3 linked regions of the Homo sapiens genome follow. The protein of the gene in region 2 interacts with the protein of the main gene of each other region in a biochemical or structural test. Each region holds a gene or a part of one and is shown on either strand. Other genes may lie near its edges.

Region 1 (3,653 bases), on a different chromosome or scaffold from region 2:
AATGCATGAGAACTTGGTTTGAGTTTAGTACAGACTGAGGACAACAAAAATCAATATAACCTCTTATCGATTCTTTATTAGAATTTTGTCTTAACCCTCCGGAGAGATCCAAAAGCATACAATAGATTCTAACATATCTTCGATGACAAATGCCACTGAAACACTCCACGCTACCTGGTCAAAAGCAGGCGTTAAGTTCAACGATGGTGAAGACAGAGGTCAGGGAGATCCTGAGGGGGGGCAACAACGTGCTCCTCCTCCCATGGCAGCACCCACCAGAATCTACAACAGCTGGCACAGCCGGAGATGTTCTGCACTGTCCCTTACCGCAAAGGCAGGCGGGAGCCACGGGCACTTTCAAGTGCTCCATCCGAGTTCTCAGACACAGCCTAGTTGAAGCCACAGCATACAGGAAAAGGACCCGTCTGTAAATGATGCCTGCCAAAGGGCTCTCCCAGAACATAGCCGGGCCTCAGGGTTTTAATGCTGCCAGAACATTCCAAGTCTCCTATGCAGAAATGTTCCTATCTTCCACCTAGTTCTGGGAGACTGGTTTGAATGTACAGACTTGCATTATCAAAATCAGCACTGTTGCTGACACTAAGACCTCCAATTCTGGGCTACTTTGTAGGTCTGGGGGAAGCCACCCCTTAAGGACAAGCGTTTTTGAGACGGAGTCTTGCTCTGTTGCCCAGGCTGGAGTGCAATGGTGAGATCTCAGCTCACTGCAACCTCTGCCTCCTGGGTTCAAGCGATTCTCCTGCCTTAGCCTCCCAAGTAGCTGGGACTACAGGCACACACCACCACGCCCAGCTAATTTTTTGTATTTTTAGTAGAGACCAGGTTTCACCATGTTGGCCAGGCTGGTCTCAAACTCTTGACCTCAGGTGCTCCACCCACCTTGGCTTCCCAACGTGCTGGGATTACAGGCATGAGCCACCACTTTCAGCCATGGACAAATTTTAGAAGTGACACTTCCAGTGTTTATCACAATGCTGTCAATTCATTTCTTTGTTCCAATAAAAACTGACAAACTCGCTCTTCCAACATAGAACCCTGGAACTCTTTTAAGAAAAGCGCTCACGCCTCTAATCCCAACACCTTGGGAGGCCGAGGCAGGTGGATCACGAGGTCAGGAGTTCAAGGCCAACCTGGCCAAGATGGTGAAACCCTGTGTCTACTAAAAATACAAAAAATTAGCCGGGCATGGTGGCAGGCACCTGTAATCCCAGCTACTCGGGAGGCTGAGGCAGAGAACTGCTTGAACCCGGGAGGTGGAGGTTGCAGTGAGGCGAGATTGTGACACTGCACTCCAGTCTGGGTGACAGAGCGAGACCCTGTCTCAAAATGAGAAAATTATTTTAATTTCATCTCACTCAAGCTTTTCTTTTTTTCTTTTTTTTCTTTTTTTTTTTTGAGACAGAGTCTCGCTCTGTCGCCCAGGCTGGAGTGCAGTGGCGCGATCTCGGCTCACTGCAAGCTCCACCTCCCGGGTTCACGCCATTCTCCTGCCTCAGCATCCCCAGTAGCTGGGACTACAGGTATCCGCCACTGCGCCCAGCTAAATTTTTTGTATTTTTAGTAGAGACGGGGTTTCTTTTCTTTTTTTTTTTTTTTTTTGTTTTTGAGAGGGAGTCTCGCTCTGTCGCCCAGGCTGGAGTGCAGTGGCACGATCTTGGCTCACTGCAAGCTCCGCCTCCCAGGTTCACACCATTCTCCCTGCCTCAGCCTCCCGAGTAGCTGGGACCACAGGTGCCCGCCACCACGCCCGGCTAATTTTTTGTATTTTTAGTAGAGACGAGGTTTCAACGTGTTAGCCAGGATGGTCTCGATCTCCTGACCTCGTGATCCGCCCACCTCGGCCTCCCAAAGTGCTGGGATTACAGGCGTGAGCCACCGTGCCAGGCCACTCAAGCTTTCCTGACTTAACATTCAAAGAGCACATTAGTTTCCACAGCTATCTGGGTTTCATCTATGGGCTACTGTTGAAGATTTGTCCTCCCAAGGACTTCATATGGTGCCAAATCTTTACCATGGGAGAGGATCATCGAGAACCAGTTACAAAAATGCAGCTTCCAAAGAGCCTCTGATCGTATCTGTGGCATGCTTTCGATTTTTAAGAGCCTCTTTTTTGATGGAGAAGAGACACACACGACAGGAGCGAGCAGTTCCACTTTCCACCCGGCGTTCGTGCTATGCCATCTGCCTGTTCCTTCCTTGTTCCTTCTTCGTCCCCAGCTAAATATAGCTTCCCAAAACCCTGTCTAGTGCTTCTGGTACTCACTTCCTAGCATCCCCTCCTCCCGGCCGTCGCTGTCCTGACGCTTCACATACAGAGGCTGTGCTGGCTGACCCTGGCTGGGAGGCTCTATTTCTTCCCCGTCCTCGTAACACTCAAGAGGACCTGAGAGGGCACCACCGGTGTCTCTCCAGGGTCTCTCAGTTTCCTTCCTCACAGGTCACTTGTGTGTTCTGGAGCCTCAGGCTGTCTCCGGTCACCGGCCTATGTTTCCAGTCAACCTGAGCACTGCTTTCCCCTTTCTGACTAACCCAGACTCCCGCGTGCCTGTTACACACGTGGTGCCTTCAACGCCTTTGTTACTCCTGCATCACACACCACTCCCTCCTCGGTGGTAAGTGTAGCCAGGGCTGCTCTTCCCACAGCCTCCTGCCCACTGGTGGAACCATCCACAACAGATGGGTCCACTTTCCATGGAGTAAGACAGGGCGGGCATCTGGACAGCTGAGATCTCACTACAAAAAAGTAGTGTTGTTTCTACTTCGTTTTATTCTCTTCCAAATGCTATCCACCTGGATTTTACTTTCAAGTTTGGAATTTTAAAACACACAGACATTCTGGCCAGGCGCAGTGGCTCACGCCTGTAATCCTGTAAAAGGGTCAGGCAGCCCTGACGTATGAGAACCAGCCTGGCACTCGCAGCTTCGCCCTGGTGGAGGTGTTACTATTGAATAGAATAATCTCGCAGAACACTAACATCAGAGAAGGTCACCTGTGTGACTGTGCTGAAATAGGACCAAAAGTAAGTAAACTTTAAAAAAAACAACTCATAATCGTTTCTAAGTAGTGACAAATCCAAGATCATCATACAAACCACAAAAATCACCAAATATCCCCTGCTCCCGGCCAGTAAGAGTGAGGGCCGAATTCCCACAGTCCCCAGGTGCGTGTTTCCCTCGCGGCGAAGAGTAACAACTCTAGTTCTGCGGAACCACATGTGTGTGCCTGGTGCTCTCTGGCTGCACTTGTAACAGCCAACCTCACAAAAGCTGAGGCCTTTTGAAACTCAAAACTGCCAAGCTGAACACCACAGTTTTTCTTTTTATCTACCATCACAGGAGTCTAGCCCACCACTTTAAAACCTCTAGCACTGGCCAGGCGTAGTGGCTCACGCCTGTAATCCCAGCACTTTGGGAGGCAGAGGCAGGCGGATCACCTGAGGTCAGGAGTTGGAGACCAGCCTGACCAAAGTGGAGAAACCCCCGTCTCTACTAAAAATACAAAATTTGTAATCCCAGCACTTGGGGAGGCCAAGGCGGGCGGATCACAAGCTCAGGAGATCAAGACCATCCTGGCTAACATGGTGAAACCCCGTCTCTACTAAAAATATAAAAAATTAGTCAGGTGTGGTGGC
Region 2 (3,653 bases):
TCTCCTCTTCTTATAAGAACACTGGTCTTACTGGATTAGGGCCCATGCATGTGACCTCATTTTACCTTAACCCCCTCTTTAAAGGTCCTATCCCCAAATATGGCCACATTGTGAGGTACTAGGAGTTAGAACTTCAACGTAGCAATGTTGGGGGACATAATTCAGCCCCTAACAGTCAGCAACAGGGAAAGAGGGAGAAAGGAGGTATGACTGTGCTATGGAGAAATGAAAGCAGACACAGCATTTACAGGGGAAAATAAATTTCATGTGTGTTCCCTCATATCTAGAATTCCCTACCTTTCTTTCCCGATCTCTCCATTCTTTGACACAAGCTCCAATCCCGTATCTGTTCTGAAGCCCTGCTAATCGTCTCAGTCCCAATGGTCCCTCTTTCTTATCCCAAATGCAGAGCACTTCCTATCTATCCTACCCATCTGACCCTTCACCCTACGTGGCCCTTGGGGCAGTTCTTGATGCCTTCTACATTATCAAATTTGAGGCCTCATCTTACACCATCCCTGTGGCTTGCCTAGTTCACACTTACCTTCTGTCAGTTCTTCCTAGGAGGCACATCCCTTCCTGTTTAGGTCAGCCCCTTTGAAATATTCTTCGCCTCTGCCCCTTCCCTGCCCAGCCCCCATTCCCTAATTAATATCATTTCACCCTTAAGATCTCAGCTCAGATGCCTCTTCCTCAGGAAGCTTTTGAAGATCACACACACAATTCACCCTCACGCTAAATGCAGGTCTTTCTTCTATCCTCTCCCCTAGCTTTGTGTCTTAGAACTTACTTAATTACATGCCTGCATTGTTATTATTTTCTTAATGTGTCTCTCCCACAAGATGGACTATACATTCAAAACCTAATGTGTCTCTCCCACAAGATGGACTACACATTCAAAAGCTAAGAATGGTTTGTCTACCATTACCTATCCAGCAGCTAGTGTAGTGCCCGGCACCTAATGAGTGCTTAAGAAGTATTTATTAAATAAAGCAACGAATAAACTAAGTATAAATTAGTATAAATCAGGGGGTCTCATGTGATCTATTTTTTGGATGAATAAATTTGCTGTGAAGTAGAGGCATCATGAAATCATTAAGTAATAATATCTAAACAGAAACATGCACAGATATTAAGAGAACTTAATGTTAAGAGATATTAAGAGAACTTAAAAGAATTTTTTTTTGAGATGGAGTTTCGCTCTTTTTGGCCAGACTGGAGTGCAAGGGTGCGATCTCAGCTCACTGTAAACTCTGCCTCCCAGGTTCAAGCGATTCTCCAGCCTTGGCCTCCTGAGTAGCTGGGGTTATAGGCACGTGCCACCACACCCGGCTAATTTTGTATTTTTAGTAAAGACGGGGTTTCACCATGTTGACCATGGTGGTCTGGAACTCTTGACCTCAAGTGATCCACCCACCTCCTCGGCCTCCCAAACTGCTGGGATTATAGGCGTGAGCCACCACACCTGGCCAGCTTAAGAGAATATTAAAGAGAAGTTAATATCTATGCATATTTATGTTTACATATCATTACTTAATGATTCCTTAAATCATTGGAACTGCGCATAAAAAGCAGAAACTATTAGGTCTAAATTCTATAGGAACTACTTAAAAACCATGCTTTCCTTATCTAATTTATATATATGCATTTTAACTTCTGCAGCTACATTTCTTAGGCCATAGACAGGTATCAGCAGTGTCCCTCTCCCTATGGCTCATTCCACTGCTTGACTTTGGCCTAAAACCAACAGGAATTCTTTACTTAGAGGTAAAAAACTGATGGATTCCCATGGTGATTCCAATCCCACACTCTCCTTTTCTCCTTCAAATTAGGCAGGAAACACTAAAATTTTGGGAACAAGATGTGCGTCACACATTGGAAATGTTCAAATCTGTTGATAACATTCAATATACTTTGGCTAAACGCATGAGGAGGCCACATGGTCACAGCCTAACCAAACACAGAACATAACTAATAAACTGAAGCAACATTCCACGTTATCACTTTCAGCTTTGCACAACATATGGAAACAGGCTCACTGCACCACTTGGTTGTGTCAGAACACTTAAGGGAGGAGGATGCACATTTGGGATTTATTACAGTCACTCACCTAAGGGAAGCGTCCAAAGAAGTGCCTTACAATATCCATGTGGCTTCATGTTACAGAATTCTCACTCTTAAAAGGAGTCTTTTCTAGAAATGTATTGACCTTTCAGGTGTTTGAACTATATGTATGGCCCTGACTGTTCTGAATATTTGAAAGCAAAAGGTACTAGTAACTTACTGAGAAAGCTTTTTTTTAAAAAAGGGGGGTGGGGGGCAGGGGATGGGGGAGGGGTAGCAGGGGGAGGGGTCTTGCTATGTTGTCTAGGCTAGACTTGAACTCCTGGGCTCAAGTGATCCTCCGGCCCCAGCCTCTGGAGTAGCTAGGACTGAAGATGCAAGTAGCTAGGGGCTAGAGGCGAGTGCCACAGTACCTGGCTCGAAAAACTATTTTAAACTAGAAAAAAGGCTGTTCTTTTTCTAAGTATTGCATCAATTGCATCAACTCAGACTACTGAATAGGTTTGTTTTTGTCCTCCATCCTCCCCCAGCAAAGTAACAGACATATTTCCTGTTCCATCCACCTCAACTATTTTATCCCAGTTATAAGGCTCAAGTTTAGTTGAGTTTCTTGGCAAGTAATTTTTCTCATGCTAAAGAAGAAACATGAAGTAAATTAGGAAAAGCATATAAACCAGAAAAATAATACTAACATGATCAAAATCTCCAAATAATTTACCTATGAAGTTCAATTTTGGGAGCTTAGCAGTTCAGATAAATGAGAATTACATAGTCAATTTCCATGTTAGCAAGAAAACTTAAAATTCAAAAGACATTAAGTTGAGTGTTTGAGCCTCTCCTTAAATTCCTCTTTATCAGTGAACAAACATTCAATGCATTCCTCACAACAGGTAAGGCAGTGTCAACAACTAAGATACAGTATTCCAGGAAGCCATGCCTTCCCTAGTCTAATTAACAGGGAAACAAAACCTTTCCAAAGATGCAAATCTACACCTTTATTAAGCTAAACAGACCTACATCAGGTGTCTCAGAAATTATCAACTTGATCACTGGTTCTGGGATTAAAATATTCGAGTCCAAATAAGTAAACTCCATAAAATAAAGGAAATCTAAGAAAAGCACTGTAAGCAGATCAGTTTCACAACATGTGGGCTCCAAATAAGGAAAAGAAAACCTCCCTATCCCAGAGTTCTCACTATCTTTAAATAAATAAATATGTCAAAAGAAACCTGACAGCCTTAATGATGAAACTGTTTTCTGATCAGGTTTTCCAGTGATTAAAATGGTCTATATACTTAAATACTTCCTATCATTTACAAAAGATGAGCCTGAGAAAGTAGTAGGAAAACTATTCTGTTAAAACTGCCTGGTATCCACATCTGCGAATTATGGGAACTAATGCTATCCCAATGGGCAGTTCCTGTATTAAATGAAAGACATCACTTTTGAGTGCTTACTGAAGACATTTGAAAAAAATATTCTCATCTAGATTAATTGTTCTTTAAAAGCAGATTTTACCAGTTTGGCCAATAATTTAGAATTCCTTCTTCTTACAAAAATGAAGTTGTTTTAATTACTGATGCTCTTGA
Region 3 (3,653 bases), on a different chromosome or scaffold from region 2:
CTACTTGGGAGGCTGAGGCAGGAGAATCGCTTGAACCCCGGAGGTGGAGGTTGCGGTGAGCCCCGATCATGCCATTGCTCTCCAGCCTAGGCAAAAGAGCGAAGCTCCGTCTCAAAAAAAAAAAAAAAAAAAAAAAGTCATAGTCCTTGTAATGGGCCCCCAAAAGACGCTCTATATGATGCCCTCACTCCACCTACCTCTCTGACTTATCTTCAGCTGTTCTCTCTCCATCCCCTAACCTTCTCTGTTCCAGACAAAAATTAGCTTCCTTGTAGTTCTTCAACGTGCCAGGCATCCGCTCACCTCAAGGGCTTTGTACTTCCTCTTCCTCCCCAAGATATCCATATGGCTTGCTCCCTCAGCTCCTAAGATCTTCATGTTTTCTCAGTGAAGCCATCATAACTGAAATTGCAAACCCCATTCAACCCTACCCTGCACACTCCCTATCCCCACTCCCTGGCTTTATCTCCACAGCACTACTAACAAATCTCATTTCTACTTATTTTGTTCAGAATTTAAGCTCCATGAGAGGATGGATTTGAGTCTATTTTATGGACTGCTATATCCTCAGCATTTGGAACACTGCCTGGCACAATAGATATTCAATTAATATTTACTGAATTCTGAATCTATTTGATGTTATGAAAAGAGGGAAATAAACGATCAGAATTTCATCGTTAACATCATTAAGGCAGGGTTATTTTCAAGGCAGGATGTGCACATTATGGAAGGAAAACAAAAGGAGCCACTCAGGTATGGGGAAAAATAGTCTAACTTCTACTTATATTTATTTTTAACCAGAAAAATGTTCATATTTAAATAAGCTTTTAGGTATGAAAAACAATAAATGAGAACATTTTATTTACACTGCCTTCACCTAAAAAAAAATACATCATAAACTGTTTCATTCCACAAGCTACAGGGCATACGTTAAAAACAACAACAACAAATAACTTCTCTCTCAGCACAGTAATATACTGAAATAGTCATAAGATGTAAATACAAATCAAATGCTTCCCCAAAATGTGTTAATTAAACCCATGGCCATTTTAGGTAATGTCTCTGGTATTTTAAGACTAGTTTTTTGTTTTGATCATGGCGATGTAAGAGCAAGTGAGAAACTGACATGTTCTTTAGGTTCAAACTAAAACATTTTTAGAGTATTAAAAAGCTCAAGAGGCAATAATGAAGCCTCTGACCTTGGGAAGTCCTTTAACATGTGACCAGAACAAAAGAGGCTGGTCTTCATTTTTTAGGAAAAAAGTTAAGATATTAGGGATGAATAGCAGGAGTAGAAAAATGAGAAAATAACTGGATGGTAAAATTCCTTGAATTCTGGGCTCTCCTCACCTCCATCCTTTAATTTTACCCCAGGTCTTCATGTTTTTAGAAAGCCATAAATTGGGTGACTGGAAAAAAAAGAAAGCCAGGGCCCAAGAGTCCCAATCCACCACTCACCAGTTACACAAAGTAGTAGCAGCTCTGTATCTACTATAAAAAGCTACAGAAAGGCCTCCAAAAGCGTATCCCAAAATAGCTTCAAAATCACTCTCAATACACAGTGGCAGAGATAGGTATGGCATTTACTTTCTCATCTTCAGTTCACCCTCAAAATCAGATATTCTTTGTAAAGAATGTACATATTAAGCACATCATGTGACCTGATCAAGCCTAGATTTAATTGGAACACATTCTAAAATAAGCTTTCGTGTGTAGAAAACATTTTGAAATAGTCCTTATAATATATGCTGCTCTCAAGTTCTAATGGACTGACACAAAAACATGCATAATTATTTCACTAAACTGTTGGTTTCCCTAACAAACCCACAGCATAAACTGTGGGAGGGGAAAAAAGGAATAAAATCCAAACTAAATGAAACAAGTCTGAAATGGCAGCATCTGAAAAAGTCTCAACCACAGAAACTGATGTCAACTTTTTTCCTAAAAAGGCAAAAACTGGCTAGGAAATAAAATCTTTCCGGCCACTATTCAACACATGACTAACTAAAATACCTTCTGGTTTTACACTATTCTTTGGTGGAAAGACAGAGTACAGTATGATTTCTTTAAGTGAAGAAGTAAAGGGCTAAAATTCCTACTGTTTCACTTATCTATCTTTTTTTTTTTTTTTGAGACAAGTCTCGCTCTCTTGCCCAGGCTGCAGTGCAGTGGCACGATCTTGGCTCACTGCAACCTCTGCCTCCTGGGTCCAAGTGAGCACCTGGCTAATTTTTGTATTTTTAGCAGAGACAGGGTTTCACCATGTTAGCCAGGCAGGTCTCGAACTCCTGACTTAAAGTGATCTGCCCGCCTCAGCCTCCCAAAGTGCTGGGATTGTAAGCGTGAGGCACCACGCCCGGCCTTATCTATCTTTTGGCACAAATAATTTACATTGCAGGTGGGATGCCATGGTTCACACCTGTAATCCCTGCACTTTGGGAGGCTGAGGCAGGCAGGGGAATCACTTGAGGCTAGGAGTTCCAGACCAAGCTGGGCAAGCATAGTGAGACCCCATCACTACCAAAAAAAAAAAAAAAAAAAAGTTGACAAATGAGATCACATAGGAAGGCCATAGTTGTTTACAGAAAAACAGAATAACCCTTAAATGAATTTTGTGATTCTATTATGTTTAAAAGCAGTCCAAGGATTGAATCCCAAACAGAAGTGAGTTTAGGGCCATGCATAATAGAAAGCACTGTAGACTATGTTCAGGAAATTAGTTAATGTAGACTATGTTCAGGAAGTTAGTTACTAAAATAGACAGGTAAGTTGGTAAAGGAATAGGGTATGGATTTAAATGTCCACAAAATTAAGTCTAAAGGAAGGTATCTCATCTTATAGAACGCATACAATAGTTAATGCTACAAATATTTTTAAAAGGAATCAAATATCACATCAAATTGATCTAATTATCAACAGATCTACTGGGTCTTGAAGAGCAAACCCTAGACTCACACTACTGTAAACTATACTGTAGTTAGTCAATTATAACAACTGACATTCTGTCAACCTATCTCTATTAACCAGGACTCTTATTTTTAAGTTGAAAAATAATTTGTGCTCAGTACGAAGCAATGACAGGTCTTAGATGCTCTTCTGCAAGGCAATGATTGGAGTATGTACAGTAAAATTTTGGGGTAATAAACAGTATTCTTAGAAAAAGTGCTAATTTGTGTGTGAGAAAAGTTGGTCCAGTTAGTAACTATCTATATCCCAGTGCATCCTGTCTACAGTGATTAGGTTTTTTAGAATATTCTCTGAAACACAAAATTGCAATATATGACCAGTAATATCAACTGTAGATCTTTTAGCTCATCTCAAACAAGAGCTGTCTGATAACTCAGTAACTGCCAATTTCATTACTGAAAAATAAGTGTTAAAAAACTGAGTGATGCTTCAATGATACCTACTCTGTAAACTCCAACCTGTCACTACATCTTTAAGCGATTCTAAAATATTAACAAACAGGGTTCTGGACAAAGTTGTGTGTTATAGAAAAAAAATTTAAATAAAGAAAAAAATTATGAAAAATTTGTAAGATAAAACAAACGGGCTCCTTTTTTGGGATCACTAATAAAGCAAGTCAATTCTTCATTATGTACACAACTGTAAGTTACTTATGAGAATCTGCAAGTTCACCCTCTATATATATA

What was found.
Region 1: the proteins of SH3RF1 (region 2) and RAC1 form a complex in vitro, tested with the Homo sapiens proteins (one study listed by IntAct).
Region 3: the proteins of SH3RF1 (region 2) and UBE2N form a complex in vitro, tested with the Homo sapiens proteins (2 studies listed by BioGRID).

The regions. Positions count from the first base shown.
Region 1 is NC_000007.14:6,395,004-6,398,656, reverse strand, and holds part of RAC1 (ras-related C3 botulinum toxin substrate 1), read right to left. Parts: intron 1-3,653. UniProt on the Homo sapiens protein: Plasma membrane-associated small GTPase which cycles between active GTP-bound and inactive GDP-bound states.
Region 2 is NC_000004.12:169,264,305-169,267,957, forward strand, and holds part of SH3RF1 (E3 ubiquitin-protein ligase SH3RF1), read right to left. Parts: intron 1-3,653. UniProt on the Homo sapiens protein: Has E3 ubiquitin-protein ligase activity. In the absence of an external substrate, it can catalyze self-ubiquitination. Stimulates ubiquitination of potassium channel KCNJ1, enhancing it's dynamin-dependent and clathrin-independent endocytosis.
Region 3 is NC_000012.12:93,414,336-93,417,988, forward strand, and holds part of UBE2N (ubiquitin-conjugating enzyme E2 N), read right to left. Parts: intron 1-3,653. UniProt on the Homo sapiens protein: The UBE2V1-UBE2N and UBE2V2-UBE2N heterodimers catalyze the synthesis of non-canonical 'Lys-63'-linked polyubiquitin chains. This type of polyubiquitination does not lead to protein degradation by the proteasome.